Regions from separate parts of the Homo sapiens genome. Here all the other regions are linked to region 1. Evidence: fine-mapped expression QTL. A gene starts in region 1. Each other region holds a variant in brackets. All regions are shown on one strand. Distances are from middle to middle.

Region 1 (8,109 bases):
TTAGTAGAGACAAGGTTTTGCCAGGTTGGCCAGGTTGGTCTCGAGCTCCAGACTTCAAGTGATCCTCCCGCCTCAGCCAAAGTGCTGGAATTACAGGCATAAGTCATCATACCCAGCCCTAATTTTTAAATTTTGTGTAGAGATAAGGGTCTTACCATGTTGCCAAGACTGGTCTTAAACTCCTGGACTCAAATGATCCTCCTGCCTCAGCCTCCCAAAGTGCTGGGATTACAGGCACAAGCCACCGCACCCAGCCTATTGCTTTTATTTAGAGATACTAAGTGCCATGGTCACTTCTGCCTGCCAAGAGGCCAAAAACCACAAGAGGGCTGGGCAGGATGTCAGGAGGGGAGAAAATTCGGGCCTCTGCTACACCCCCCACTTCAAACCGTGTGACTCACTTTGGGTCCCAATTTTCATGTATGTGATAAAGTTTGAAGGACTGGATCTTGGATGTGGTGGGGTAACTGATGTGTGACAAATCTGCAGGGCTGTGCCCAGTTAGAGGGAAAGCTGAAGGTACTAATTAACTAGTTAAGCCTGGGAGAGGGCACAAGCAAGAGGTCAGCAGGAGAAGCAGACACTGGAGGACCGCCTGGCCCATACACCCTCTCCAAGAAAGGCAGTCCTCCAGTTCCTGCCAAGAGGACAGCAATGAGGGCTTGGGGTACAATGGAGTAGAATGGCTGCACTGGCAGCAGAAGGTAGCCTTGGGAGGGAGCCACTGAGTATGACTGAGGCCAAGATGAACCAAGCAGGTGGTCAGGGGCTAAGGGAAAGCGGAAGAGGCCCAGCTCCCTGGGAGGGAGGGACCTGCTCCTCTAGGGCCTCCACAGAATAGCAACAGTTACAAGGACAGTGGCCACAGCTCTTCCTGTTTTATGAGTGTTTGCTGAGTTTCAGGCTTCCTGTTAAGCACTATCTTCCATCTTGGGCAACAGAGCCAAGAGGATGAGCATGAGACAAATGGGCAGAGATGGCCTGAACAAGGTCAAGTTATAAGATGAGGACAGGCCACCCTGGTTAACCTGGAGTACATCACCAGGGAGGCAGAAAGACACAGAGCCCACGACTGTTGCCTAGGCTGAGCTGGGGCAACTGCGGGGAGAGGGCTAGGCAGATGCAAGGAGAGGACTGTGATCCATCATGAGCTGGCTAAGCTCCCTGGGCCCAGGCCTGCCCATGTACTGAGGTCCCCAGGTCCTGGTCTTCCTGGGCAATGGGCAGAAGCTATAAGTGGGGAGATGTCACCTTCCTCCTCGTGGCCACAGCTACCACTCACAAGACAGGTAAAATAACTGTACCAGAGGTTGTGCTTAGCCCAATATTGGGAGATAGTAAATGCCTGCTTAGCTGGGTAAGGACTTCTAGGCTTGGTCACTAGTGATACTAAGAACAGGAAGGTCCTGGAGTGGGAGCCACATCTAATCCATGTCCCCTTTGAGGGCCAATTTAGGGCCAGATCCTGAAGGTCCCAAGCTAGTAGCCTTAGCCATGCTCACCCATAAAGGGGTACAGAGGGAAATCCACTCCAGGCCTGACCCAATTCCCAGTCCAGAACAAGGAGAGCACTGATGAGGTGCTGTGGAAGTTCTTGCAGTCAGAAGTTACCCCAAGTCACTCATCAGACATAGCATCTATGGGGAAGGGGTTAAGTCCAGTCTTACTTAAAGCTGGCACTGTGTGGGCCTACAAATTCTGGTCTCCCACCCCATCCCTGACTCACCCACAGCATCTGGACACCACAGGGGCTGGTCAGAGCTCAGTCTTGGCCCACAGGGTCAAAGCCTTGGTATTAAGAAGTGGGTCTCTGGCCTCAATCCCTCACCCACCCAGCCTGCCCTCAATCCTAGCACAGGTGGAAGGTTAAATAGTGCCCAGAGGGGGATGAAAACTCTCATTCCTCATCCTCTTACCCCCGTCTGCCCTCAGAAGAGCCACTTTTTCCCTAAAAGACTCAGAGAATCCCATTCCTGATACTCTGAAAAGCTCCCCGACCCCATTCGACTGCTGGGTTAGTGGGCAAAGAAGCTATACCTGGGGCCCAGCCCCACCAGCCCAACCCTGATCCTCTCCTAGACCCACCCGCATGTTCCCCTCCAAGGTACTCCGGGGAGACAACCTCCTCTGTTGGCCCTAGTGGTCCTGGGAAAGACACAGAGAGCTGGGTCCAGCTCCCTGCTCAGATGCTTTAAGACCTTGTGCCTTAAATAAGTCCTGTAACCTCTCCAGACCTGTATCAGGTCCTGTACCAAGTGCTTTAAATGTATAATCTCATTTCATGTTCACAACAACTCCTTATCTTTCCCCATGAATAGATGCAGAAACCTGGCTTCCAGAGTCTAGGATATCATCCAAGGTCATGAAACTGGCAAACACAGGATAGCTATTAGCCATATCTAGAGGACTCTGCACTTGGACTCATAATTAAAACTTGTGTAAAGGCCGGGCACGGTGGCTCACGCCTGTAATCCCAGCACTTTGGGAGGCCAAGGCAGGCAGATCACGAGGTCAAGAGATCGAGACCATCCTGGCCAACATGGTGAAACCCTGTCTCTACTAAAAATACAAAAAATTAGCTGGGCGTGGTGGCGCACGCCTGTAGTCCCAGCTACTCAGGAGGCTGAGGCAGTAAAATCGCTTGAACCTGGGAGGTGGAGGTTGCAGTGAGCTGAGATTGTGCCACTGCACTCCAGCCTGGCGACAGAGTGAGACTCTGCCTCAAAAAAAAAAAATCTTTTGTAAAATGAGAAGGGCCTTTGCTGTACTTCTAGCCTCCAGGAGCCACTATCCCTGCCATGCTCTACCCATCCATTGGCACAAGCTACAAATGAGTAAAGACCCCAGAGATGACAGATTCAAGGGATTCTGGGTATGGGGTGTGGCCCTAGGCCCAGAACTGTATGCCTTAAGCTGGAACCAGGTACCCGCCCCCAGCATCCCCCTGACCCCCACCATGCCACCTATATCAGCATGCCAGGTCTCCAGGGAGCCTATAGTCTGAGGTGGCTAGATGGCTGGCCCGCCCTCTGCCCAGGAACCAGGGGTGGGTTGGCCCAGGGCCTGTCCCTTTCAACACGGGACCAGCGACTCGTCAGGAGTCTATCAGCAGCCTCCTGAGGCTCCACAGGTGCAGTGGGCATCAGCCTTGTCCTCTGGCCAGCCCTGGGAGGCTCACACCACTCCAGCCCAGACAGGCAGGGGCCACAGGGAAGAAGCAGTCCCACCCAAGCCTTGGTGGGGTCTCAGCTTCCAGCAAAGGGAAACAGATCCATTCCAGTCAGAGGAGCTTCACATGGAAGGGGCAGCCAAGCTGAACAAGAGATCCCCTTTGGGCCTGAACACATGGGTCCAGCCAGAATCCCAGAGTCAGGAGTCACCCCTTCCCTGCTTCCGGATACAGCATCTCTAGCCATAGTGACTCCACCCCTTGCTCACTGGGACACTCAAAGCTTAGCTAGGCTACGCCTCAGTTTCCCCATCTGTGAAGTAGGGAGGACCACAAGCCTGACCTTACAGGACAGTATGACGATGAAACATGTTGCTGAGCATAGGAAGCTTAGCAGGGGCGCTAGACATAGCTTCACTCACAGGCTTCCGCTGTGGACCCTCCAGGATACCCCAGGCCTCAGTGAGGGCTCACTGACCTTCAGGGCACACTTCTGTCCAGTGCGCCGATGGAAGCACTCCAGCACTTTGCCGTTCACACCCAGGCCCAGCACCTGCTTGGACAACTGGTAGTCGTCGGTCACTGCGTACTTCTTGGGCTCCCGCCGCCCCCCCGGAGCACCGCCCAAGCCGGGTCCGCCGGGTGCAACTGGCGGGGGCACAGGGCCCCCCTGCTCCTCTGCTGTTTCACCATCCATGGCCCCCGCGGGGCGCTCAGAGGCGGCCCCAGCCTGGCGCTTCTAGTGGCACCTGGGGGAAAGGGGAAGAGTGAGTCCCGCCCAGACTTTTCCAACACACCCCAGCCTTGGAGCCTCTGAACTGGGCTGGGCTGCGAGCCCGGGGCAAGCTGGGAGTGCGGGACGAACGGCCTGAGAGTACAGACGTGCAGCAAGGGGCGGTGGTCGCGCGGCGGGGTACAAGCGAGCACCGCCCGGGCACGTGTCAAGAAGGGAAGGGGCCGGGCGCCTAATGGCCGCGAGGTCCCCGGAGGAGGCCGCAGAGGGGGCCCAGCGAGGGCGTACCTGGCGGCAACGCACCTTGCTGAGGTACCGGCGAGGGGCAGGAGAGGCGGTCGCGGGAGCTGGCGGCCGCAGAAATCCCAGGGCCGAGAGTCGCGCTGCCGGCGCCCACGTGACCTCCCCCCCCTCCCCACCCCCCCCTCCCCCACTCCCCCACTCCACCCCCCGCTCCCTGCGCGTCATCCCAACTTGGGGCCCCGCTAGGTCAGCCTTAAAGGGCCAGGCGGGCCCCGGCTGGGTCCCGCCCCCGAGCCGGAACAAAATAGGAGGCGTGGCTTCCCGAGGGGGCGGTTACTTCCTCGGTTTCCAGGGACACCCAGGGAGGCCCCTGTACTGGCAGTCCGCTACTGTGCGGGTCCCGGGTTTTACTCGCAACCTAGAACGTGACAGCGCAGGACGTCTTATTTCTCTTGAAAGCTCTCCTTGAGTCGGGTGTTTGCTCTGCACGCTGCCAGGTGGCCCTCCAGTATGGCTTGCTAGGCTTCCGACTTGCCTAGTGTTGGCCAACCCTCAGCGTACTCAACTTTTTAAACATGCCGAGGGAGGTGGCATCTTGTCGTTGTTGAATTCGCCACTCTTTAGTCTCTGGTGGCTCTGGGAGTCTCCAGCACTGGCGACTGCCCCCTTTTTGCAGCTCCCGCTTATGCCCTTGACTCGCTGCTTCCCTTTGGTATATACAGCATCCTGGGGACCAGAAATCCCGAGTTGCCATTTGATCAGATCCGCCAACATTTCACCTTATGGTTTGGGCTTTTGGCGTCGTGTTTAAAAAGTCTCTGTCTCCCATCCGAGTGACAGATATTCTCCATTAGCTTTCTAGTTTTGCCTTGCACATATAAGTCTCTGTTAAGCCCATCTTAGACTACCTTACGTATTTTGAGCCAGTTTTCCCAACACCGGCTGTTAAGCAACTCTCATTTCACAGATGAGGAAACTGGGACCCCTGGGGAGAAAACAACTTGTCTAGAGCCATAGGGAGGGTGGCTGTGGCTGTCTTCTGGGACAGATCTGAACTACTTGCGCACATCACATCACTCCCCCAATCCGGAAGCTGAGGGACCTGAGCGAGCTGGCTCACTTGGAACTGGGAAGGTGCGGCTCAGCGCAGGGGCTCTGCATGGGCCTCTGCTGTCATCTACAGGCCATCTACAGGACTGCAGGTACCAGGACCTCGGTTCCACTCAGAGGCGTCTTCCAGCCATCCTACTCTTGGCTCCGGAATTTAGGCCCAGTGAGCGCCTCCCCCTCAGCCCCTCTGGTTAACACACGCACACTCACGGACCCCTGGGCTGCATGTGCAGGCTCATCAGAGAAGTAGCTCTTGGAAAGATGATCTTCTGTCAATGAATGAGTGAATGAGTGACTGAAAGGGTGCTACAACTTATTAGTGGGTACCCACTGTGTGCAGATGTTGAGTGGAGATGGGGTTGGGGCTCTGCCCCTATTTCTTTCAGGCAACCTTCAAGCTAGCAGTGTTCAGTGAAGCAGGAGGCTCCAGACAATAGCCTCAGCTGGCCATAGTGAACACTTCTTGCAGACCAGATGCTGGGAATGTGCTCTCCCTGCAACCCCCTGACCTTACAGAGCCTAGAGGAGGTCACACTATCCCTTCTGCCCCACACTACAGACACACAGGACAGAAAAGCCCAGAGAGGTTAAGTGACCTGTCTGAGGTCAGCAGCTGTCATGACAGAGCCCCCATTCCAACTCCAAAGCACAACCTCAGGGCTGGGCTCTTATCCTCAAACCATGGCCTCCTCTCCTAGTCCTTTCTGGCTCCTCACACAGCCACATGTGCAAACATACTCTCACACATGTACACATGCAGTCACACCTTTACACATGTGCACACACATGCATATAACACGTATAAACACACATGCATATAACACACATGCACACAGATACACATGCACATGTGCACACACACATGCATTTATGCCCAGCTGGACCCAGGATTGATGTCCCTGAGCCCAACCTGAGAATCTGATTCAAGATCTCAGAGCCTCTTTGAAAGCCCTATGATCTGGAATCTTCTACTGCTGGGGGGAGCCAAAGAAGGCTCTCTGCTCTCTGAAGGCAACTAGTTTGAGCCTGGTGAACCTGAGGCTGAGCAAGATGTCATTCTGGTGAGCAGAAGGCTAGGCAGCTGAGGGTGGAGGCTGGCTCCTTGCCCCAGCCAAAGGCATCCCACTGAATGTTCTGTGAAGATGTCTTCTTTCTTTAAAATGGAATTAGATTATAATTGCTCTACAAATTTTATAATTGTATTTTTTAAGCTGGTCTCTTTTATTAAAATTTTAAGTTGCATAAGTAAAACTTCCTCATTGTAATTAATTCAAATTATACAGAAGTATGAAAAGTAAGGCAAAGGTGCTGCTTCTCCCCTCCCAGTCCCTATAACCAGTGTCCATGCTTCCACAGGCACACGCATTCCCCACATGGGTCCATCGGAGAGATGCCTTGAAACTACTCACTTAGCCCAGGAAAGTCAGAATATGTGGTTTCCCTTAGTGCTCATGTTCCAGCAACCACCTGCAGCATCCCCTCCACAATGATGGGAGGATTTGGCATGCAGGATGGCTAGGTCTGGTCAGGAGTGGGTTCATGATGGCAGACTCTGCCACACAGCCCTTCATGTAGCTGTGTGTCCAAGGGGACAGAGACTTTGGAATAGCTTAAAGTGAGGGGGGCTAAATCCTACACACACACACACACACACACACACACACACACACACACACTCTGTCCTTACTGGAGAGGGGAGGCTGTACATGGTGAGAGGATGGAGGCCAAATGAGCGAGACTTTTGGGAAGGCACTGCTGTGTATTCTTGTGATTCATCTTGTGATTGTTCTGGGTAGGGAGTGGCAGGGGAATCTTGCAGTAAGTTCAATCCCTGGGGTGCAGGAGAGGGATTATCCTAGAAGAGAAGAATCTATGGAAATTTGGCTAGTGAGGGCATGAGAGGGGGCACCGCTAGGTGGCAGTGTGGGCCCAGCAATCAGAGCCAGGGTTTCTAGGGAGCAGCCAGGGCAGGAGAATTAAGTACTAAGTTGGCCAGAGGGACCCAACTTAGTACTTGGGGCAGAACAGGGGCACATCACTGTTCCCAGCATGCAGGTGAGGTGCACAGTGCTGTCATATTCACACACACACAAAAATAGTTGGAAGGCCAAAACCCTTGGAACCCTTTGGTTTACACATAGACTGCATAATCACTGACCTGTAGGAGATACTTTCAAAGGGACACCCATGGTGCTCTGACATGGACAGGCCTGGGGGCAGAGAAGCTTCACTGAGGACCTTAAAGCTGGATGTCTAGGAGTCGGCAGATCACCAGCACCCATAGAGGAAGTAGGAGGAAGTGTGTAGGCTCCTGGCTTAAACCATTACTTGCCAGCTGGGAGATCTAAGTTATATTGTAACCTCTCCATGCCTCAGTTTTCTCACCTGTAAAGAGGAGATAATATGTGGTAGTTGTGACAATGACATGAGGCTGCAAATTGCTGAGAGTGCTTGACACATAGTAAGTGTTCAGTTGAATAGTCATGGTGAGGGGGAAGAAGTATAGTTTTGGTAGAGAGCTTGGGATTTGGCCCCATAAGAGACCCAAGTTCAAAATTGTAACTCTGTTGCCTGGCAGCGGCAAAGTCCTTTTGTCTTCATAGTAATGAGACAGTGGACAGTTCCTACTGGCAAGTCAGTGGTCCACACAGGGGCCGCATATCAGGCTATCCAGGTATCCCAGCCCTCAAAGTGGGTTATAAGGTATCCATCCCCCCTACCCCCATTCCAAGAAAGTGGCTTCTGGCCAACTCAGGAGGGGGCTGGCAGAGTTGCACTCATGAAGCCCGGCTTCCCTTCAGGAAAGCTACAGAGAAGTGACTGCCCTGAAATCTGAAACTTAACGTTTTTTCCC
Region 2 (8,109 bases), 260 kb before region 1:
TGTACTGGGTGAATATATATTTAGGCTGGTCAGCTCTTCTTGTTGAATTGATCCCTTTACCATTATGTAATGCCCTTCTTTGTCTCTTTTGATCTTTGTTGGTTTAAAGTCTGTTTTATCAGAGACTAGGATTGCAACCCCTTCCTTTTTTTTGTTTTCCATTTGCTTGGTAAATCTTCCTCCATCCCTTTATTTTGAGCCTATGTGTGTCTCTGCACCTGAGATGGGTCTCCTGAATATAGCACACTGATGGGTCTTGACTCTTTATGCAATTTGCCAGTCTGTGTCTTTCAATTGGAGCAGTTAGCCCATTTACATTTAAAGTGAATATTGTTAGGTGTGAATTTGATCCTGTCATTATGATGTTAGCTGGTTATTTTGCTCGTTAATTGATGCAGTTTCTTCCTAGCATCGATGGTCTTTACAATTTGGCATGTTTTTGCAGTGGCTAGTACCATTTGTTCCTTTCCATGTTTAGTGCTTCCTTCAGGAGCTCTTGTAAGGCAGGCCTGGTGGTGACAAAATCTCTCAGCATTTGCTTGTCTGTAAAGGATTTTATTTCTCCTTCACTTATGAAGCTTAGTTTGGCTGGATATGAAATTCTGGGTTGAAAATTCTTTTCTTTAAGAATGTTGAATATTGGCCCCCACTCTCTTCTGGCTTGTAGAGTTTCTGCCGAGAGATCTGCTGTTAGTCTGATGGGCTTCCCTTTGTGGGTAACCCGACTTTTCTCTCTGGCTGCCCTTAATATTTTTTCCTTCATTTCAACTTTGATGAATCTGACAATTATGTGTCATGGAGTTGCTCTTCTCGAGGAGTATATTTGTGGTGTTCTCTGTATTTCCTGAATTTGAATGTTGGCCTGCCTTGCTAGCTTGGGGATATTCTCCTGGTTAATATCCTGCAGAGTGTTTTCCAACTTGGTTTCATTCTCCCTGTCACTTTCAGGTACACCAATCAGACACAGATTTGGTCTTTTCACATAGTGCCATATTTCTTGGAGGCTTTGTTCGTTTCTCTTTACTTTTTTCTCTAAACTTCTCTTCTTGCTTCATTTCATTAATTTGATCTTCAATCACTGATACCCTTTCTTCCACTTGATCAAATCAGCTACTGAAGCTTGTGCATGCGTCACATCGTTCTCGTGCCATGGTTTTCAGCTCCATCAGGTCATTTAAGGTCTTCTCTACACTGTTTATTCTAGTTAGCCACCCATCTAATCTTTTTTCAAGGTTTTTAGCTTCTTTGCAATGGGTTCAAATATCCTCCTTTAGCTCGGAGAAGTTTGTTATTACCAATCGTCCGAAGCCTTCTTCTCTCAACTCATCAAAGTCATTCTCCTTCCAGCTTTGTTTCATTGCTGGCGAGGAGCTGCATTCCTCTGGAGGAGAAGAGACGCTCTGATTTTTAGAATTTTCAGCTTTTCTGCTCTGGTTTCTCCCCATCTTGGTGGTTTTATCTACCTTTGATCTTTGATGATGGTGACGTACAGATGGGGTTTTGGTGTGGATGTCCTTTCTGTTTGTTAGTTTTCCTTCTAACAGTCAGGACCTTCAGCTGCAGGTCTGTTGGAGTTTGCTGGAGGTCCACTCCAGACACTGTTTGCCTGGGTATCACCAGCGGAGGCTGCAGAACAGCAAATATTGCAGAACGGCAAATGTTGCTGCCTGATCCTTCCTCTGGAAGCTTCGTCTCAGAGGGGCACCTGGCTGTATTTGGTGTCAGTCAGCCTCTATTGGGAGATGTCTCCCAGTTAGGTTACTCCCAGTTAGCCAGGCGTGGTGGTGCAGGCCTGTAATCCCAGCTACTCAGGAGGCTGAGGCAGGAGAATTGCTTGAACCCAGGAGGCGGAGGTTGCAGTGAGCTGAGATCACGCCACTGCACTCCAGCCTGGTGACACAGCGAGACTCCAACATAAAAAAGAAAAAGAAAAGAAAAGAAAAGAAAAGAAAAGAAAAAGTGGCTGCCATTGAAGCCCTAGATAATGGTGCACTACAGAAAGCCACTGTCTTGTTCAGAGATGCCATCAAGCTGAATCCTCGCTTGACCATTCTGTATGTCAACACAGTCAGTATCTTCATCACATTACAGAAGCCAAACACTGCCATTCGAGACTGACAGAACAAATGAAATAAATTCTGATTTGGCTCAGCCTTATAAGTGGTGAGGGAAAGCACACAGATTTCTGGGCCATTGGAAAGAAGCAGCTATAATCTTGACCCTGACCATAACTGGATTATGATGAAGATACTAGTACAATGCTGAAAGAAGTTCAACTGAGGGCCAAGAAAATTGCACAACATTAGAAAAAGGTTGAATAGAAATATCAAGAGTAAGAAATCAAAGAAAGAATAAAAAGGGTTAAGAAGGCTCCGTAAGATCATGAGAGAGCTCAGAGGGAGAAAGAAGCCAGATGACATTCAGGAGCTCAGTATGGCTCTTTTCCAGGTGGCTTTCCCAGGGGGAATGCCTGGTAATTTTCCTGGAGCAATGCCTAGAATGGCAGAAATGCCTGGATGCAATGAAATTCTTAGTGATTTAGAGCAGGAGTGTTCAATCTTTTGGCTTCCCTGGACCACACTCAAAGAAGAATTGTCTTGGGCCACACATAAAATACAGTAACACTAACGAGAGCTGATGGGCTTTTTAAAAAAATTGCAAAAAATCTCATAATGTTTTAAGAAAATTTACAAATTTGTGTTGGGCCACATTCAAAACTGTTCTGGGCTGCATATGGCCCATGAGTTGGACAAGCTTGACCTAGAGGTTCTTGCAGCCATGCAGGAAACAGAAGTTACAGTGATCTTCTAGGATGTGGCCCAGAACACAGCAAATATGTCAAAACACCAGAGTAACCAAAAAAATTATGAATCTCATCAGTAAATTGTCAGCCAAATTTTTAAAGTGAAGGAAAATGTCCTTTGGACAAGTAAAAGGCCCTAGGTGAAGGAAAAGCAAACTAGATCACCTAATAAATGTTACAATAATACAAACCGGTGTACCTCTGATCAAGACAACTAGAAGGCTTTCAAGATCATCTCTACCCCTCTTCCCCAAATGCAGCTGAATATTTTACTGTGGTTTGCCATTAGGATATTCATTCAAATCATGTGTTCCTGCTAGAAATTACAAACTATAATAAAATACTAAATATTTATTCACTAAATATTTATACTGAATAAAATACTAAATATTTTAAACCTTAAAATATTTAAAACAAAAGGATTTGTTAGTTCATATATTTTTCTTTAATAATCATTTTGTATTTTTCCTTTATTAGGCAAGAAAGATACTTAAGTATGGAAGATTTATTGCTCTGGTTTTAGTGAAACACAGGTTTACAAATGGGAGGCAAATAAAACTAATTTAAGTAGATAAAGCTTGAGTTGAATACATGACTACTGAGGAATTTTGATTTCTCTTTTTAAATGGTTTTTTAACATGAATAATTCTGATAAAAATATTGATATTCCAGTATTTCAACAGAACCTGAGGAACAGGTTCTGTTTCTCAGAAACAGACTGGAAATACTTGGTATAGCAGCAGTAATCTTATTATGTTTTACATAGCATGCACCCTCTTGTCAGTTGCATTTAAACC[T/A]TACACGATGGTAAAGAATTTTTTTTAATGCTCCAGTAGAGCTGGATTATTCAGCTCTGTTCTTGTTCAATATATCATGAAAATGTTTCATATTATCTCAACAGCGAACAGGCGAAGACTCTCAAAACACAACAGTTGTTTTTTTTTTTTTAATTCAAAAATTAAAGAGGAAGAGATGATTGCAACTTCATTCTATGAGGCAAGCACTGCTCTGATACCAAAATCAGACAGGGACACAACAAACAAGAAAACTATAGGCCGATAATCCTGATGAATATAAATGCAAAAATCTTCTACAAAATATTAAATACTCAAATTCAACAACATATCAAAAACATCATTCATCGTGATCAAGTGGGATTCATCCCAGGGAATCAAGGATGGTTGAACATGTGAAAATCAATAAACATGATATATCACATCAACAAAATCAGAGACAAAACCCATATCATCATTTCAATGGGTGCTGAAAAAGCATTTGATAAAGTTCAAAATTCCTTCATGATAAAACCTCTAAACAAACTGGGTATGGAAGGAATTTACCTGAACACAATAATGGCCACATATAACAAACCCATAGCTAATATCATACTGAAGGAACAGGGAAAAATTGAAAGTCTTTCCAAAGAGATCTCAAACAAGACAAAGATAAGACTTCCACCACTTTTATTTAACATAGTACTACAAGTCTTAGCCAGCACAAACAGGCAAGAGAAACAAGTGAAAGGGTACCCAAACTGGAATTTTAAAAGCCAAATTATCCTTGTTTGCAGACAACATAATTTTTTTTTTAATTTTACTTTAAGTTCTGGGATACATGTGCAGAACGTGCAGGTTTGTTACATAGGCATACATGTGCCATGGTGGTTTGCTGCACCTATCAACTCGTCATCTAGGTTTGAAGCCCCGCATGCTTTAGGTATTTGTCTTAATGCTCTCCCACCCCTCCCCCACAACTCCGGTGTGTGACGTTCCCCTCCCTGTGTCCATGTGTTCTCATTGTTCAACTCCCACTTATGAGTGAGAACGTGTGGTGTTTGGTTTTCTGTTTCTGTGTTAGTTTGCTAAGAATGATGGCTTCCAGCTTCATCCGTGTGCCTGCAAAGCCCATGAACTCATTCTTTTTTATGGCCACAATGATCTTATATTTAGAGAAACCTAAAGACTCCACCACAAAAAAGCTTAGAACTGAAAAACGTATTCAGTAAAGTTGCAGCATACAACCTCAACATACAAAAATCAGTAGCATTTACATATACTACCAGTGAAAAATCAAAAAGGCAATCTGATTTACAATAGCTACCAAAAATAAAATAAAATACTTAGGAATAAATTTAACCAAATAAGTGGAATATCTCTACAAGAAAAACTACAAAACACTAATGAAAGAAACTGAAAAGGACACAAAATAAATGGAAAGGTATGCCAGATTCATGGATTGGAATAATTAATATTGTTAAAATGCCTATACTTTTTTTGTTTTTTTTTTTCTTTATTTATTTCTAAGATACAGGGTCCCATTTCATCACCAGGCTGGAGTGCAGTAGAACAATTAGCTCACTGCAGCCTTAAACTCCTAGGCTCAAGGGATCCTCCTGCTTCAGCCTCCCAGGTAGCTGGGACTACAAATACACCCACCATGCCCAGCTAATTTTTTCTTTTAATTTTTTGCAGACATACGGTCTTGCCATCTTGCTTAGGCTGGTCTCGAACTTCTGGGCTCTAGTGACCCTCCCACCTCAGCCTCCCAAAGTGCTGAGATTACAGGTGTGACCTATCACATTCAGCAAAATATCTATACTTCCCAAAGCAATCTATACATTTAATGCAATTCCTATCAAAATACCAATGACAGGAGAAAAAGATGGAGCAAGATGCTGAAATAGAAAGCTCCACTGATCACCCCACTAAGAGTACAACAATTTAACAAAAAAAAAAAAAACAAAAGAAAAGAAAAAAAAAAAAACACCTTCATGAAAACCAAAACTCAGGCAAGTACTTACAGCATCCGATTTTAACTTTACATTACTGAAAGAGAAAATGAAGAAGTAGAAAAAACAGTTTTGAATCACAGACATCACCCTTCCCCCAACCCATAGCAGCTACTGCATAGTGCAGAAAACAATTCTGTATGCTGGGGGAGAAACAGCGCGGAAATTGGGAGGCACTGAACTCAAAGCTGTTCCATTAGAGCAGAAATAAAAACCAGAATAAATTTGGCTGATGTGTGCCCATGAAGAAAGCATTTAAACCAGCCCTAGGCAGAGGAGAATAGCTGATCTCAGTGATTGGAACTTGAGTTCCTGAAAGTCTCACCACCTCAGGCTAAAGGCTCTGGGGCTCTAAATAAATTTAAAAGGCAGTTTAGGCCACAAGGACTGTAACTCCTAGGTGAGTCCCAGTGGTGAACCAGGCCCTGAGCCAGTGGATTAGGGAACACACAATCTAATGAGATAACAGCTAGGGTAGCTAAGAAAGTGCTGGCATCACCTCTCCCTTAACCCCAGGCTGTACAGCTTGCAGCTCCAACAGACCCCTTCCTTCTGTGTGAGGAGAGGAGAGGAAACAGTGAAGAAGACTTTGTCTGGCATCTTGGATACCAGCTCAGTCACAGCAGGATAAGGCACTGCTCAGAGTCGTGAGGTCATGAGGTCCCCTTTCCAGGCCCTAGCTCCCAGATGACATTTCTAGACATACCCTGGCCCAGAAGGGAACCTGCTGCCTTGAAGGGAAGGGCAAAATCCTAGCAAAATTCATCATCTGCTACCTAAAGAGCCCCTGGGGCCCTGAATAACCAGGAGTGATACCCAGGTATTACATCAAGGGTCTTGGGTGAGAATCTGAGACTTGCTGGCTTCGGGGGAAACTCAGCACATTTCCAGCTGTGTTGGCTACCGGGCAAGCCTTCTGCCTGAGACAAGTGGAGGGGAAAAGGAAACAAGGCTTTCTCTTGCACCTTAGGAACCAGCGTGGTCATGGGTGGGTACAGAACAAAGCAGGCTCTTGGGTCCCTGATTCCAGGACTTGGCTCTTGGACTGCATTTCTGGACCTGTCCTGGACCAGGGAGGAGCCCACTGCCATGAAGGTGATTCCCAGGCCAGGAAAGAGTCACCACAAGCTGACTGAAGAGCTCTTGGCCTTAAAATATTGGTGGTAGTCTGGCAGTAGGCCCCGTGGGCCTGTGATGGCAGGAGCCACAGGATGAGGCTCCTCTGCCTTCGGAAAGGGGAGGAAAGAAGGGGAAGGATGGTGTCTTGTGGTTTTGGTGCCAGCTCAGCTATGGTACAAGAGAACATAAGGTAGACTTCTAAGGTTTTTGACTCTAGTCCCTGGCTCCTAGATATCACCTCTAAACTCACCCAGGAACTGGGGAAACTCAGTACCCTGAAGGGAAGGACACAGACCTGACTGGCTTTGCCAGCTGCTCATTCTAGAGCTCCAGGGCCTTGAACAGACATATATGGTAGCCCGGGAGTGGTTACAACAGGCCTTGGGTGAGACCCAGTGAGACCTGGCTTCAGGTCTGACCCAGCACAGTCCTAGTGGTGGTGACCACAGAGGTGCTTGTGTCACTCAAACTCCAGCTTCAGGTGACTCGAAACAGAGAGAGAGACTGCTTGTTTGGCAGAAAGTAAGAGAAGAGAACAAGAGTCTCTGTCTGGTAATACAGAGAATTCTTCCAGATATTGTCCAAGACCATCAAGGTGGTCCCTCTACAAGTCTGAAAAAACCACAGCATTAACTAGACTTGGGGTCCCCCCTAAAGCAGACACAGCTTAAATCACAACATCCAAGTCCCTCTGAATATCTGGAAGGCCTTCCTAAGAAAGACAAACAAGCTCAACAAATAACTAACTCAAAGACTACCTTAAATAACTAACTCTTCAATGCCTACCACAGACAAAACTCTACAAGTATCAAGACCATATCCAGGAAAATATGGCCTTACCAAATAAACTAAATAAGGCACCAGGAACCAAATCTAGAGAAACAGAGATATATGATCTTTCAGACAGAGAACTCAAAATAGCTGTTTTTAGTAAACTCAAAGAAATTCAAGATAACACAGAAAAGAAATCCAGAATTCTATCAGGTAAATTTAGCAAAGAGATCGAAATAATTTAAAATAATCAAGCCAAAATTCTGGAGTTGAAAAATGCAACTGATGTACTGAATAATGCACCAGAGTCTGTTGAATCAAGAATGACTCATTGTGCAGAATGAATCAAGCACAAGAAAGAATTAGTGAGCTTTAAGACAGGCTATTTGAAAATACACAAAGGAGACAAAAGTTAAAAGAATAAAAAACAAGCAAGATGACAGGTTTTAGAAAATAGCCTCAAAAGAGCAAATCTGAGAGTTGGCATTAAAGAGGAGGTAGAGAAAGAAATAGGGTTCAGAACTTCACTAAAAGAAATAATAACAGAGAACCCTCCAAACATAGCGAGAGACATCAATATCCAAGTTCAAGAAGGTTACAGAACACCAAGAAAATTTAACCCACAGAG
Region 3 (8,109 bases), 170 kb before region 1:
TAATCATCAGATTCTCCAAAGTCAAAATGAAAGAAAAAATGTTAAAGGTAGCTAGAATGAAAGATCAGGTAACCTACAAAGGCAAACCCATCAGACTAACAGTGGACCTCTCAGGAGAAACCCAAGCCAGAAGAGATTGGGGGCCAATATTCCATATTCTTTAAAAAAAAAAGAGAGATTCAAACCCAGAATTCATAGCTGGCCAAACTGAGCTTCACAAGCCAACAAGAAATAAGATCCTTTTCAGACAATCAAACACTGAGGAAATTCGTTACCCTCAGACCCGCCTTAAAAGAGCTCCTGAAGGAAGCACTAAATATGGAAAGGAAAGACCACTACCAGCCACCACAAACACAAACTTAAGCACACAGACCAGTAACACTATAAAGCAACCACACAAACATGTCTCCATATTAACTAGCTAACACCATGATGACAAGATCAAATCTACACATATCAATAATAACCCTGAATGTAAACAGGATAAATGCCCCAATTAAAAGGTGCAGAGTAGCAAGCTAGACAAAGAACCAAGACCCATTAATATGCTGTCTTCGAGAGATCCATGTCACATGCAAACACCCACAGACTTGAAATAAAGGGATGGAGAAAAATCTACCAAGCAAGACAAAATAGAAAAAAGCAGGGGTTGCAATCCTAATTTCAGACAAAACAGACTTTAAACCAACGAAGATCAAAAAAGACAAATTAGGGCATTACATAATGGTAAAGGATTCAATTCAACGAGAAGACTTAACTATCCTAAATATATATGCACCTAACACAGGAGCACCCAGATTCATAAAGCAAGTTCTTAGAGACCTACAAAGAGACACAGACTCCCACACAACAATAGTGGGAAACTTCAACATGCCACTGACAGTATTCAATAGATCATCAAGGCAGAAATTAACAAAGGTATTCAGTACTTGAACTCAGCACTGGATCAAATGGATCTGATAGAAATTTACAGAACTCTCCACCCAAAAGCAACAAAACATACATTCTTCTCATTGCCACATCACACACATTCTAAAATTGACCACATACTCGGACACAAAACACTCCTCAGCAAATGCAAAAGAAGTGAAATCATAACAACCACTCTGTCAGACCACAGCACAATCAAATTAAAAATCAACACCAGGAAATTCACTCAAAACCTTACGATTACACATAAGTTAAATAAACTGCTCCCAAATGACTTCTGGGTAAATAATGAAATCAAGGCAAAAATCAACAAGTTCTTTGAAACTAATGAGAACAAAAATATAATATACCCAAAATCTCTGGGACACAGCTAAGGCAGTGTTAAAAGGAAAATATATAGCACTAAATGCCTACACCAAAAAGAAAGATCTGTCTCAATCTAACATCACAACTAAAAGAATTAGGGAGCTAAGAGTAAATCAAGCCCAAAGCTAGTAGAAGACAAGAAATAACCTAAATCAGAGGTTGCACAGAAGGAGAGGAAAACATGAAAAACCATTCAAAAGATCATTGAAGGCAGGGGTTGAATTTTTGAAAAGAAAATTAATAAAATAGGCCAGGCAAGGTGGCTCACGCCTGTAATCCCAGCACTTTGGGAGGCTGAGGCAGGTGGATCACGTGAGATCAGGAGTTCGAGACCAGCCTGACCAACAAGGCGAAATCCCGTCTCTACTAAAAAATACAAAAATTAGCTGGGTGTGGTGGCACATGCCTGTAATCCCACCTACGGGAGGCTGAGGCAGGAGAATCACTTGAAGCCAGGACGTAGAGGTTGCAGTGAGCTGAAATCATGCCACTACACTCCAGCCTGGGCAACAAGAGCAAAACTCTGCCTCAAAAAAAAAAAAAAAAAGAAAAAGAAAAAGAAAATTAATAAAACAGATAGATGGCTAGCTAGACTAATAAAGAAGAAAAAAGTGAATATCCAAATAAACACAATTAGAAACAGCAAAGGGGATATTACCACTGACCCCAAAAAAATTCAAATAACCATCAGAGACTATTATGAACACCTCTATACATATAAACCAAAAAATCTGGAAGAAACGTTTACATTCCTGGACACATACCCCCTCCCAAGACTGAACCAGGAAGAAACTGAATATGTGAACAGACCAATAATGAGCTCTGAAACTAAATTTTAATAAACTTCCAACCAACCAAAAGAGGCCAAGGACCAGACAAATTCACAGCCAAATTCTAACAGATGTACAAAGAAGAGCTGGTACCATTCTTACTGAAACAATTCTAAAAAACTAAGGAGGAGGGACTTCTCCTTGACTCATTCTATGAGGCCAGCATCATCCTGATATCAAAACCTGGCAGAGAACAGGCCAATATCCTCAATGAACATCAGTGCAAAAATCCTCAATGAAATATTCGCAAACCAAATCCAGCAGCACATCAAAAAGCTTATCCACTATGACCAATTTATCCCTGGAATGCAAGATTGCTCTAACGTATGCAAATCAATAAACGTGATTCATCACATAAACAGAGCTAGAAACAAAAACCACATGATCATCTCAACAGATGCAGAAAAGGCTTTTGGTAAAATTCAACACCATTTATGTTAAAAACTCTCAATAAGCTTGGTGAAATAGTAACAGATATCTATGACAAACCCACAGCCAACGTCATAACCAATCTATAAAGCTGGAAGCATTCCCCTTGAAAACCGGCACAAGACAGAGGTGCTCTCTCTCACCACTCCTAGTCAACATAGTATTGGAAGTCCTTTCCAGAACAATTAGGCAAGAAAAAGAAATAAACAGCATCCAAATAGGAAGAGAGGAAGTCAAACTACCCATTTGTAGATGACATGTCCTATACCTACAAAACCCCACAGTGTCAGCCCCAAAGCTCCTTAAGCTGAAAAACAACTTCAGCAAAGTCTCAGAATACAAAATCTACGTGCAAAAATCACTAGAGTTCCTATACACCAACAACAGCCAACTTGAGAGCCAAATCGGAACAGAATCTCATTCACTGCCATAAAAAGAATGAAATACCTAGAAATATAGCTAACCAGAGAAGTGAAAGACGTCTACAAAAAGAACTACAAAACATTGCTCAAAAAAAAAAAAAA[T/AT]CAGAGATGACACAAACAAATGGAAAAATATTTCATGCTAACAGAGAAGAATCCATATCATTAAAATGGTCATACTGCCCAAAGCAATTTACAGATTCAATGCTATTCCTATCAAACTACAATGACATTCTTCACAGAACTAGAAAAATCTATTTTAAAATTCACATGGAACAAAAAAAAATCCCGAATGGCCAAGGAATAAAAAAATATCCCGAATAGCCAAGGCAATCCTAAGCAAAAAGAACAAAGCTGGAGGCATCATGCTACCCAACTTCAAACTATACCACAGGGCCACAGAAACTAAAACAACATGGTACTAGTACAAAAAACAAACACAGAGACCAATGGAAAACAACAGAGCACCCAGAAACAAGGCCACACACTTACTACCATCTGATCTTCAACAAACCTGACAAAAACAAGCATTGAAGAAGACTCCCTATTCAATAAATGGTGCTGGGATAACTGGCTAACCATATGCAGAAGATTGAAACTGGACCCCTTCCTTACACCATGCACAAAAATCAACTCAAGACAGATTAAACATTTGGCCAAGTGCAGTGGCTCACACCTATAATTCCAGCACTTTGGGAGGCCGAGGCGGGTGGATCACCTGAGGTCAGGAGTTCCAGACCAACCTGGCCAACATGGTAAAACCCCATTTCAACATGGTGAAACTAAAAATACAAAAATTAGCCAGACATGGTAGCGTGCACCTGTAGTCCCTGCTACTTGGGAGGCTGAGGCAGGAGAATCACTTGAACCCGGGAGGCAGAGGTTGCAGTGAGCCGAGATGGCACCACTGCACTCAATCCTGGGCGACAGAGCAAGACTCCGTCTCAAAAAAAAAAAAAAAAAAAAAAAGATAGATTTAACACTTAAATGTAAACCCCAAAACTGTAATAGATCACCTAGGCCAATACCATTCGGAACATAGGAACAGGCAAAGATTTCATGACAAAGGCACCAAAAGCAATCACAACAAAGGCAAACATTGACAAATGGGATCTTATTAAACTTAGGAGCTTCTGCATAACAAAAGAAACTATCAACAGAGTAAACAACCTACAGAATGGGAGAAAAATTTTGCAATCTATCCATCTGACAAAGGTCTAATATCGTCTACAAGGAACTTAAACAAATTTATAACAACAACAAAAAAAAACATTAAAAAGTGGGCAAAGGACATGAACAGATGCTTCTCAAAAAAAGACATTCATGTGGCCAAGAAGCATATGAAAAAAAGTATCATTGATCACTAGAAAAATGCAAATCAAAATCACAATGAGATACCATCTCACACCAGTCAGAATGGAAGATCATCGCCCAGGCACACAGTCATCAGGTTATCTAAAGTCAAGACGAAGGAAAGAATCTTAAGAGCTGTGAGGCAAAAGCATCAAGTAACCTATAAAGGAAAATTTATCAGATTAAAAGCAGATTTCTCAGCAGAAACCCTATAAACTTGAAGGGATTGAGGTCCTATCTTTAGTCTCCTTAAACAAAACAATTATCAGTCATGAATTTTGTATCTAGCAAAACTAAGCTTCGTAAATGAAGGAAAGATAGTCTTTTTCAGACAAACAAATGCTGAAAGAATCTGCCACTACCAAGCCAGCACTAAAATAACTGCTAAAAAAAAAAAAAAAGCTCTAAATATTGAAACAAAAACCTCAAAATACACCAAAATAGAACCTCCTTAAAGGATAAATCTCACAGGACCTGTAAAACAATAGCAAATGAGAAAAAAACAAACAAGGTATTCAGGCAACAACCACAATGATGAACAGAATAGTACCTCACGTCTCAATACTAACACTGAATGTATGGCCTAAATGCTCCACTTAAAAGATACAGAATGGCAGAACAGATAAGAATTCACAAACCATGCATCTGTTGTCTTCAAGAGACTCACCTAACATATAAGGACTCATATAAACTTAAGGTAAAAAGGTGGAAAAAGATATTCCATGCAAATGAACACCCAAAGCAAGCAGGAGGAGCTATTCTTACATCAGATGAAACAAACTTTAAAGCAAAAGCAGTTAAAAAAACACAAAGAGGGATATTATACAATGATGAAAGGACTAGGCCACGCATGGTGGCTCATGCCTGTAATCTCAACAGTTTGGGAAGCCGAGGTGGGCAGATACTTGTGGCCAAGAGTTCCAGACCGGTCTGGCCAATATGGCGAAACCCCATCTCTACTAAAAATACAAAAATTAGCCAGGCATGCTAGTGCATGACTATCAGTCCCAGCTACTCAGGAGGCTGAGACACAAGAATCGCTTGAACCCAGAAGGCACAGGTCACACCACTGATGACACCAAGATCACACCACTGCATTCCAACCTGGATGACAGACAGAGAGACTGTCTTAAAAACAAACAAACAAACAAAAAAGATTTAAAAACTAGTCCAACAGGAAAATATCAGAATCCTAGATATATATGCACCTAACACTGGAGCTCCCAAATTTATAAAACAGTTACTACTAGACCTAAGAAATGTGATGGATGGCAACACAATAATGGTGGCGGACTTCAATAATCCACTGACAGCACTGGACAGGTTATCAAGACAGAAAGACCACAAGTAAACAATGGACTTAAACTATACCCTAGAACAAATGGACTTAACAGATATTTACAGAACATTCTACCCAACAACTGCAGAATATACATTCTAATCATCAGTACATGGAACATTCTCCAAGATAGATCATATTACAGGCCACAAAACAACTCTCTATAAATTTAAGAAAACCAAAATTACATCAAGTACTCTCTCAGATCACAGTGGAATAAAATTGGAAATTAACTCCAAAAGGAACCCTCAAAACCATGAAAATACATGGAAACTAACCTGCTGCTGAATGATCATTGGGTCAACAATGAAATCAAGATGGAAATTAAAAGTTATTTGAACTGCATAATAGTGACACAATCTATCAAAACCTCTGGGATGCAGCAAGAGGTGCTAAGAGAAAAGTTCTTAGCATTAAACACCTATATCAAAAAGTCTAAAAGAGAAAAAAGAAGACAGTCTAAGGTCACACCTCAAGGAACTAGAGAAACAAAAACAAACTAAACCCAAACCCAGCAGAAGAAAAGAAATAACAAAGATCAGAGCAGAACTAAATGAAATGGAAACAAACAAACAAAAAAGAAACAATACAAAAGATAAATGAAACAAAAACCTCGTTCTTTGAAAAGATAATAAAGGGGGGTGGCCAACAAAGGAAGGGGACGGGGCGGGCACGCGCCCTCGCAGCCACTCGCCTCCCTCCCTGCACGTACATCCACACACCCACCCCCCTCCCCTGCCTCCCTCCCTGCGCTCTGCCCACCCTGCCACCCTCCTTGCCCTCAGGCACTCAGAAGGAAGTCCAGAGACATGGGAGTGGTGGCCACATAGCACTGTGGCCAGCAGCCGAGGCCAGGTCTGAGGAGCAGTCCTGAGGACAGACATTGGGCAGGAGTGAGGGGCCAGCCTGGCTGGAGGTTGTGACTCTGGCTACAGTCCCCCCACTGCAGGGAAGGACTGCCAAGGCATTGATCTAGGCGGTGGAGGTGGCTGGCCCAGATAAGATGCACCAAGTCCCTTGTAGTTCTCTTCAGAAGAAAAATCACTAGTGGTCTGCTCTTGCCATAATACCAAACCTTTTTGACTTATGCTTTGGTGCTGCAACACTGGAAGAATTCAGTTTCCAGGAATATCTTTTTTTCATTTGAGTGATTCTTAGGGATGGAAAAATATTTTAGTCTTAATAATTACCTTGTTTTAAAGCTATTTTCTTTACAGTCTGAACTGCTTAATAAATTGAGTCATTTACCAATGAGGCACACAGCCACTTCTCGTCAGGAGCTGGTTGAAAACTGTGCTGTGCCTGTAGCAGGAATGGCACAAGATGATAGCCGTCATGGGCAAGTGCCATCCAGCTTTCATCATGGTGCCACAAGGAACTTGACCTGTCCACCAAAGTGTAACAAAGGGAACCAGGAAGTCCTTATTCTGTGTTTGTGGACACCAAGATGAGCAAACTACATCTCCATGAAACAGAAGAACAGCCACATTTCAGGGAGACAGGAGCAGAGTCTGATGTGCATGCTATTAAGGAAGACCAGGAGAATTCTGATGACACAGAAGAGGAGGAGGAAGAAGAGGAAGAAGTCTTTTACAAAAGGGAGCAGATCATAGTGGAGGTAAACCTTAATAATCAAACATTAAATGTACCTAAAGGGGAAAAGGGTACCTCTTCTCAATCCAAAGAGACTCCTGTTCTTAAACAATGAGGAGGAAGAGAGAGAGGAAGGGGCCACAGATAACAGCAATGACTATGGAGAGAATGATAAGCAGAAGAAAAAGGAGAAGATAACAGAGAAAGTCAGCGTTACAGAAAGAAGAATGAGGAGAGCTGCCTCTGTTGCTGCAGCTACCACTTCCCCTACTCCCAGAACTACAAGAGGTTGCAGGAAGAGTGCAGAGCCACCTAAGCGTAAGAAGCGGGAAACAAAGGAGCCTGAAGCACCAGTGCAGAAAGCTAAGTGTGACCTGTGAGAAGTGACCCAGGGTTGTTTTTTGTTTTTGAGACAGTTTTACTCTTGTTGCCCAGGCTGGAGTGCAATGGCGCGATCTCGGCTCACCACAACCTCCATCTCCCGGGTTCAAGCGATTCTCCTGCCTCAGCCTCCCGAGTAGCTGGGATTACAGGCATGCATCACCACGCCCAGCTAATTTTGTATTTTTAATAGAGACGGGGTTTCTACATGTTGATCAGGCTGGTCTCGAACTCCTGACCTCAGGTGATCAGCCCGCCTCAGCCTCCCAAAGTGCTGGGATTACAGGCGTGTGCCCCAGGGTATTTAATGCTCACTGGTGTCTGGAGAAGCAAATGAATATTACTCATAGGCACATGCAGATTTGTGATAAATGTGGCAATAAGTTTGTCCTGGAAAGTGAGCTATATCTTCACCGGCAAACAGACTGTGAAAAAAACATTTAGTTTGTTGCCTGTAATAAATCGTTCA
Region 4 (8,109 bases), 440 kb before region 1:
TGAGTACTAACACTTTGTTGTGATCAAAAGTCCCTGCTCTCATGGCACTTTTGATCTAGAGAGCAGGCAATAGGCAAATCATTAATGATGGTGATAAATTATAAAAAGAAAAATCAGAGTGGCCAAGGGTAGGCTGGCTGGGGCACTGGGGAAGGTACTGCTTTAGGTGGAGTGGTCAGGGAAAGACTTTTTGGGAGCTGAACTTTGAGAATACACCTGAATGAAGTAAGGTGGCAACATTTAAGAAAACTGGGGACATTATTCAGGCATAAGAAACAAGTGCAAAGGCCTTGAGGTGGAAGTAAACATGGCATGTTCAGGAAAAACAGGGTCAGTGTGTCTTGAGAAAGGGAAGATTGATGATGCAGACAGGCAGCAGGCACCAGGTTAAACACAGATTTTGTAAACCACCTTAAGGCTTTGGCTTTTATTCTAAGCAAGATGGGAAGTTACTGGAGATTTGGAGCAGAAGAGTGATGTGATATGACTTAAGTCTCGAAAGCATCACTCTGAGTGCTCTATTGAAGATAAACCATAAAAAGGCAAAGAGGAAGGCAGGGATTCCAGTCAGGAGGCTATTTAGTGCAACAGTTCACAGCATAACAGCTGCTTGGATGAAGGTAAGAATGCTGATGTTAAGAAGGGCTTGAAGTTTTGACATGTTTTGTAGGTAGAGGTGCCAGAATTTGCTGACGGACTAGATGTGGGTTATGAACAGAGTAAAGTATCACTCTTGTTTTGTGGCCTGGAAAGCATGCCTGGAAGAAGGAAACTAAGTTTAATTTTGGACATGCTAAGTCTGACACTGATTTCCAACATTCAGAGGTTAGGAAAGTGAGAAGTATTTAGCAGAGGAAACTAGAAGGAGTAAGCAGTGAGGTGAGAGGAAAAGCAGGAGAGTATGTGTCATGAAAGCCAAATGAAAACTGGATTTTTCTTTTCATGGCTTTTTTTTTTATTATACTTTAAGTTTTAGGGTACATGTTCACAACGTGCAGGTTAATTACATATGTATACATCTGCCATGTTGGTGTGCTGTACCCAGTAACTTGTCATTTAATGTTAGGTATATCTCCAAATGCTATCCCTCCCCCCTCTCCCCACCCCACATCAGGCCCCGGTGTGTGATGTTCCCCTTCCTATGTCGATGTGTTCTCATTGTTCAATTCCCATCTATGAGTGAGAACATGCGGTGTTTGGTTTTTTGTCCTTGCAATAGTTTGCTGAGAATGGTGGTTTCCAGCTTCATCCATGTCCCTACAAAGGACATGAACTCATCATTTTTTATGGCTGCATTGTATTCAATGGTGTATATGTGCCACATTTTCTTAATCCAGTCTATCACTGTTGGACATTTGGGTTGGTTCCAAGTCTTTGCTATTGTGAATAGTGCCGCAATAAACACACGTGTGTATGTGTCTTTATAGCAGCATGATTTATAATCCTTTGGGTATATATACAGTAATGGGATGGCTGGGTCAAATGGTATTTCAAGTTCTAGATCCCTGAGGAATCGCCACACTGACTTCCACAATGGTTGAACTAGTTTACAGTGCCACCAACAGTGTAAAAGTGTTCCTATTTCTCCACATCCTCTCCAGCACCTGTTGTTTCCTGACTTTTTAATGATCGCCATTCTAACTGGTGTGAGATGGTATCTCATTGTGGTTTTGATTTGCATTTCTCTGATGGCCAGTGATGAAGAGCATTTTTTCATGTGTCTGTTGGCTGCATAAATGTCTTCTTTTGAGAAGTGTCTGTTCATATCCTTTGCCCACTTGTTGATAGGGTTGTTTGTTTTTTTCTTGTAAATTTGTTTGAGTTCACTGTAGATTCTGGATATTAGCCCTTGACTTCAAACTATACTACAAGGCTACAGTAACCAAAACAGCATGGTACTGGTACCAAAACAGAGATATAGACCAATGGAACAGAACAGAGCCCTCAGAAATAATGCTGCTTATCTACAACCATCTGATCTTTGACAAACCTGACAAAAACAAGAAATGGGGAAAGGATTCCCTATTTAATAAATGGTGCTGGGAAAACTGGCTAGCAATATGTAGAAAGCTGAAACTGGATCCCTTCCTTACACCTTATACAAAAATTAATTCAAGATGGATTAAAGACTTAAGTGTTGACCTAAAACCATAAAAACCCTAGAAGAAAGCCTAGGCAGTACCATTCAGGACACAGGCATGGGCAAGGACTTCACGTATAAAACACCAAAAGCAATGGCAACAGAAGCCAAAATTGACAAATGGGATCTAATTAAACTAAAGAGCTTTTGCACAGCAAAAGAAACTACCATCAGAGTGAACAGGCAACCTACAGAATGGGAGAAAATTTTAGAAAACTGGATTTTAAGGAGGACTTTGTCAAAGGCACTGGGGGGTTAAATAAATATGAACTGAGAATTGGCCAGGGGATTTGGCATTGTGGTGGCTGTCACTGACCTCTACAGGAACAGTTTCTTTTTTTTTATATGCAATAGATGTCTTATTTTATTTTATTATTATTATACTTTAAGTTTTAGGGTACATGTGCACAATGTGCAGGTTCAATGAATTGTTGGAGTGAGTTTGAGTGAGATTGTGAGAGGAAGAAGTGGAGAAAGAGCACAGACAACTCTTCTGAAGAATCTGCAGTAACTAAAAGCAGAGAAATGGGGTAGCAGAATGTGACTGTGTGGTTAAGGAAGGGTTTTTAAAAGATTTGACAAAATTTCAAACTAAATTTTGAAGAGAATAATCTATTAGAGGGAGAAAATTTGATGATGCAGCTGTTAAATCCTTGAGTAGACATGAACAGATGGATCCTGGGGAAAAAAGGGGAGGGTTTGATTTAGGTAGGAGGCTTGATACTCTGTGTTACCTACCTATTCTTCACAGAGAGGAAGGGTACAGAATATGGGTAATGATACAGGTAGCTGGTAGATCTGGTAATAAGAGAACTAAAATTTTCCTCTGACTGCTTTATTCTCAGAGAAATAAAAAGCAATATCATCAGCTGGGAGTGAATAGAGTGGGAAGGGGTATTTGAGATTTGAGAATAGAGCAAACGATATAAAACAGTCTCTTACGGAGTGGTAACTTGAATTGACCAGAAAGTTAGTTCCATTGCTAGGTAGTTCTGAGATCTGTGAAAACTAATTAAAAGTAATGTGGGATGTGGGGTGTGTGTGTGTGTGTGTGTGTGTGTGTGTGTGTGTGTGGTTTTTTTTCTAGCAAAGTCTAATGAAGTATACTGATACTGAGGCATCATGTGTATTAATGTACATGTGTGCTATGGTCCAAATGTCTGCATTTCCCCCTCAATAAATTCATACATTGAAATCCTAACCCTCAAGGCAATGGTATTAGGAGGTGAAACTGTTTGGGAGATAATTAGGTTATAAGGGCCAAGCCCTCGTGAATGGGATTAGTGCCCTTATAAAATAGGCCCAAGGCCATTATCCTAAGAAAATTAATGCAGAAACAGAAAAACAAACACCGTATGTTCTCATTTACAAGTGGGAGCTAAACACTGGGTACTCATGAATATAAAAACAACAACAATAGACACTGGGGACTATTAGAGGGTGAAGACAGGGTGAAGTACAAGGGTTGAAACTTACCTGTTAGGTACTATGTTCACTACCCGTGTGAGGGGATTATTCACATCTCAAATGTCAGAATCATGCAACATACCCATGTAACAAACCTACACATGTACCCCCAGATCTAAAATAAAAGTTAAAATGATTTTATACATACATACATATATATGTAATTATTTTATACATATATGTATACACCCACAGCCAAATTTCCTATTAATATTTAATTAAATATTTGTATTTATTACCTTAAAAAAAATAGGCCCAAAGGGGAGGTTCTTTCATCCCTTCTCCCATGTGAAGCCATAGCAAGAAGGTGCAAACTATGAGGAAGTGGACCCCCACCAGACACTGATTCTGCCAATCTTGATCCTGGACTTCTCAGCCTCCAGAAATGTGATAAATAAACTTCTGTTGTTTATAAACTGCTCAACTTAGAAAATTTTGTTATAGCAGCCCAACAAACTAAGATGGCATATACGTATTATGTATGTGTATATTAATGCATATACATGTACATATATACACACATACACATGTAATACATACATAAATGCACAATACACATATACAATATCTATGCCACACGCACAAACACACACTATCTATGCAAGAATATACAAATGTAGTCTTTTAAGGCATTGTACATGGTTTTTTTTAATCAAGAGTTTCACAGATTGCATTTTCCAAAGATAACTACAATATCTCCCATGACAAGTGGTCTTTTGCAATAATGTGACTTTGATACCCTTCCAGCATGACATGGAATCTATTTTCCCACAGTTTTGAATCTGGGCAGGCCCTGAATATGCTCTGACCAACAGATATGGCAGCAGTGAGCTAGGCCAGTTCTCAGCCTTTAACTAGTCTGGCTGCTTCTGCTTCCTGCATTTTGGAATGCATGTTCTTGGGAGCTGAGGCCATAAGTAAGGAGTTTCAATGGTGTGAGTGAGCAATCTTGGATACCTAGCCCAGCTGAGCCTTCAAAGGACTACAGCCCCTACCAATACTCAACTGCAACAAAATGAGAAACCCTAAATGAAAAATGCCCAACTGAGTTCACTATATCCAGAAAAGAATGAAAAATATAGTTATTTTAAGCCACTAAGCTTTGGATGGTTTGTTATGTAGGTAACTGAAACAATTACACAATTTTTTTCAATAGAAAATCAGTTGTTTCCAAATACATGAAAATGAAATTACTTATCCTACACCAACTGTGTAAAGATGCACAAAGAAGGAAATGGATTAAGTAAAGCAGCACTGTTATTATAACCAATGTGGTGTTAATTTCTTTTTC[C/T]GGGCCAACCTAATGACCTCTCTGACCAGAGACCCTAGCAGTAGAGGCTCCACCAACATTGCTCCGACACCGCACTGTGTTCTTGGGCTTGTTAGCATAAGACAGTATATACCACTCAAGGTGAGCAATCTGGGTGACTAGCACCAGAGCATACATTCACCTAGAATGATCTGATGCCACAAAACAGCTGAATACCTCACTCAGGAAAAACAATCCTTTTCTACTTAGAGACCTGCTCCTCAGTGGATTAAAGTAACAGTATAATTAGGTTGGCACTACAGGTTTTGTTTTCTGGCACAATCATCCCTATTTCCTGTCACTGCTAAAATAAAAGGAAAATTCAATGAGGAGGAGATTGGGCAGAAGAAATCTGTATAGCTCATCTTAGCAACACATCCAGCCTCTGCAAAAACCCTACAGACTAATATTTGTCAAGATCAGTCACAGATTATTTGGAAAGTACACTGAAGAGTCAGCAGAAACCATAAATTTAGAATGATTAAACTACTTTACAAACGCATGCCAAGTACAATTTGCCTCACTGTTGTGAAACAATCCCTGGAGCTCTGCAGAAAAAAAGAATATGTTTTAGTGCTCCTGTTTTAAAGATAATTTTTGCTAAATTATTTTTAACCCAGTATGGAAAGAAACGTTGTGCCACAGTGATGCCTCTAAGTCAGTAAATGAGCAAAGTTGTAGGGCATTTGCCAGAAAGTATATTACCTTTATTTTAAAACTACATATGCTTACGGACCAATTAATATAAACACAGCATCATAAAAATCTAATTAAATAAAAATGACATCAGAAATTTTGCTATCCTCAAAGAGAATAATGTCCTGCCACTAGTACTAAAAACTTTACATCAAAATCAATTTAATGGAAGATAAACATTGTTTCCTTCCAATGTTGTTGTGGGAAGATTACCAGATCTCCCCTATTTTACATTTTCTTTTTGAATATTCCTTTATACATAAGTAGATGGGTTTTTTCTCACTTTCTTTTTAACAAATTAACCATTAAGAACTTGAGTTTATTCAAAACTCCCAAAACAGCATTCTTTTTTCATTACTACTAATCTTCAAGTCTCTTCTCATGAAGTAACCTCTAATCCTATTCTAGATGTTTTCTTATATTCCAAAACTCATCCCAATATAATGAAAAGATTTCTAGACTACAGTACTTGGAACCCTAATGACCTTTATGTCAAAAATACCTTTAAATGGCCAGGCACAGTGGCTCACGCCTGTAATCCCAGCACTTTGGGAAGCTGAGGTGGGTGGATCACGAGGTCAGGACATCGAGACCATCCTGGCTAACACTGTGAAACCTCGTCTCTACTAAAAATACAAAAAATTAGCCAGCCATGGTGGCGGGCACCTGTAGTCCCAGTTACTCGGGAGGCAGAGGCAGGAGAATGGTGTGAACCTGGAAGGCAGAGCTTGCAGTGAGCCGAGATTGTGCCACTGCATTCCAGCCTGGGGAACAGAGCGAGACTCCGTCTCAAAAAATAAATAAAATAAAAATAATAATAATAAAATACCTTTAAACCCAGGAATCTAAACTTTCATTTTAGTTTGCCGAACAACATAGTCAGCAACTGAGTACAAAAGATAGAAATTTTTGTGAAACAAAACAGTATCTAAACCAAAGCTAATTCACACTGATTTTCAAGCACATATTTACAACAAATGAAAATGCAAAGAAGCGATATGAAAATTCTTTTTCTCTTCATTAATATGAGGAAGTATCCATACAATATGTATTTCCTTGGCACATACATCTAACTCCTCCACATCTCAAGGGCCATGATATCATCCTCAGTCTATCCCCAGCCCAAATACATCCTCCATTATAGAGTTGATATTCCAAATAACAAATAGCATTATAGCTCTAATCCTCTCTTACAACACATATATTTGCAGGAGAGCTAAGATTTGTAAAAATCTTTCTATTCCACAGAGCAGATCTTCATAAGAAAGGAACAACACCAAAGGTAGAAAGGTAGAAAAAATATTAGAGATATGACAATGGAGGCTGTAGTTGCTGAAGTCATCCATTCACGGATGGATAGATGCCAAGTGAAGGGCATCCATTCACAATTCTGAACAAGGCAGACTTACCTAACAGTGGGCAGTAAACAGCTGAGGCGTTCTCAGGCTCACAGTCACTCCTACTACACAGGACAGATCAAATCTCTACTTAAAGTCAGTCCTCGATGTGTCCATAGGCATCTCTTCTTAGGGAGACTAATAAAAAGCCAGCCTCAATCCTTCCCATGCACAACTATCCACTCCACCAAACATTAAAGGTGAAAGCTGGAAAGTAGATGACTTGTCAAAGAATAGAAAACTAAAAAAGCCCTAAGAGTAAGGTGGAGGAAGACAAGTGAGGAGGGTGGGAAACAGGGAAGAAATCAGTAAGATGCAAGCCTCTGCAGAAAGGCTCTGAGACTGGAGGTACCAGAAATCTCTGAAGCCTAGAAGTATTATCCCCCTTTACCCCCAACCCTTTCCCAGTGTGCTTTCCACATCGAGCTCCCCAGATGTTAACAACCAGGCTGATACCTGCATATGAAGAATGGAGAAGATTCCTCTTTAGGAAAACTCAGCCCAGGGGAAAAGATCCAGAAATATTGACAGCTGCTCTACTTTTTCCATCAAAAGCCAGGCCCTCTTCTAATCCCTCTAAAGTAATGTTCACTAATTGATAAATACTAGCCCAATTCACAGAGCTTTCTGTCAACATTTTAATGCCTCATTCTTAAATATGAATGGACAAAGAACACCATATAATAAGGAAAGCTTCCAACATGAAGGAAAGAGACCAAAGCAATCAGAAAAATAGATATTGGAGGAAACAGACACAATGACAAGAATAAAAGAAAATTTCAAAGAAAAAATAATTAATATTTTACAAGACCACAGAAATTATAGCACATCCATCCAAAGAAGAATAGGGCATAATAAAGGGGCATAACCCCCAAAACCCAAAAGGGCTTTTGGAAGTTAAAAGCAGGCTAGTCGTAATTTAATATTAAAAAACAGTAAAATAATGGAACACAAAATTGAGGAATCCTGCCTGAAAGCAGAATGAAAAGGTAATGCAATCCAATAGATAAATGGGAGACAAAATGTAAGAAAATTAGTGCATCATTTGAAGATGTCCAACTCTAATCAAAGGGTTCTAGGAAGACAGAACTGTGAAAACA

The links. PIP is the estimated chance that this variant, and not a neighbour inherited with it, causes the effect.
Region 2: its variant is fine-mapped to the expression of MAPKAPK3 in whole blood (INTERVAL, PIP 0.97).
Region 3: its variant is fine-mapped to the expression of MAPKAPK3 in whole blood (INTERVAL, PIP above 0.99).
Region 4: its variant is fine-mapped to the expression of MAPKAPK3 in whole blood (TOPMed, PIP above 0.99).

Annotation. Positions count from the first base shown.
Region 1 is chr3:50,613,323-50,621,431 of GRCh38, reverse strand. MAPKAPK3 (MAPK activated protein kinase 3) reads right to left here and starts at 4,281. Exons shown (of 11, transcript NM_001243925.2): 1 at 4,191-4,281; 2 at 3,648-3,918. The coding sequence starts at 3,866. RefSeq lists enhancers at 2,655-3,607, 3,608-4,561, 5,429-5,518 and silencers at 3,828-3,977, 4,228-4,277, 4,288-4,337.
Region 2 is chr3:50,871,500-50,879,608 of GRCh38, reverse strand. All of the region lies in intron 3 of DOCK3 (dedicator of cytokinesis 3), which reads right to left. It also overlaps the pseudogene ST13P14. Among named protein-coding and RNA genes, the nearest start is that of MIR4787, 200 kb to the right of the region's middle. RefSeq lists an enhancer at 5,715-5,944. The variant T/A (reference allele first, on the strand shown) is at 3,601.
Region 3 is chr3:50,787,093-50,795,201 of GRCh38, reverse strand. All of the region lies in intron 2 of DOCK3 (dedicator of cytokinesis 3), which reads right to left. It also overlaps the pseudogene ZNF652P1. Among named protein-coding and RNA genes, the nearest start is that of MIR4787, 120 kb to the right of the region's middle. RefSeq lists an enhancer at 3,797-4,543. The variant T/AT (reference allele first, on the strand shown) is at 3,080.
Region 4 is chr3:51,054,561-51,062,669 of GRCh38, reverse strand. The region is part of intron 5 of DOCK3 (dedicator of cytokinesis 3); the gene reads right to left. Among named protein-coding and RNA genes, the nearest start is that of MANF, 330 kb to the left of the region's middle. The variant C/T (reference allele first, on the strand shown) is at 4,899.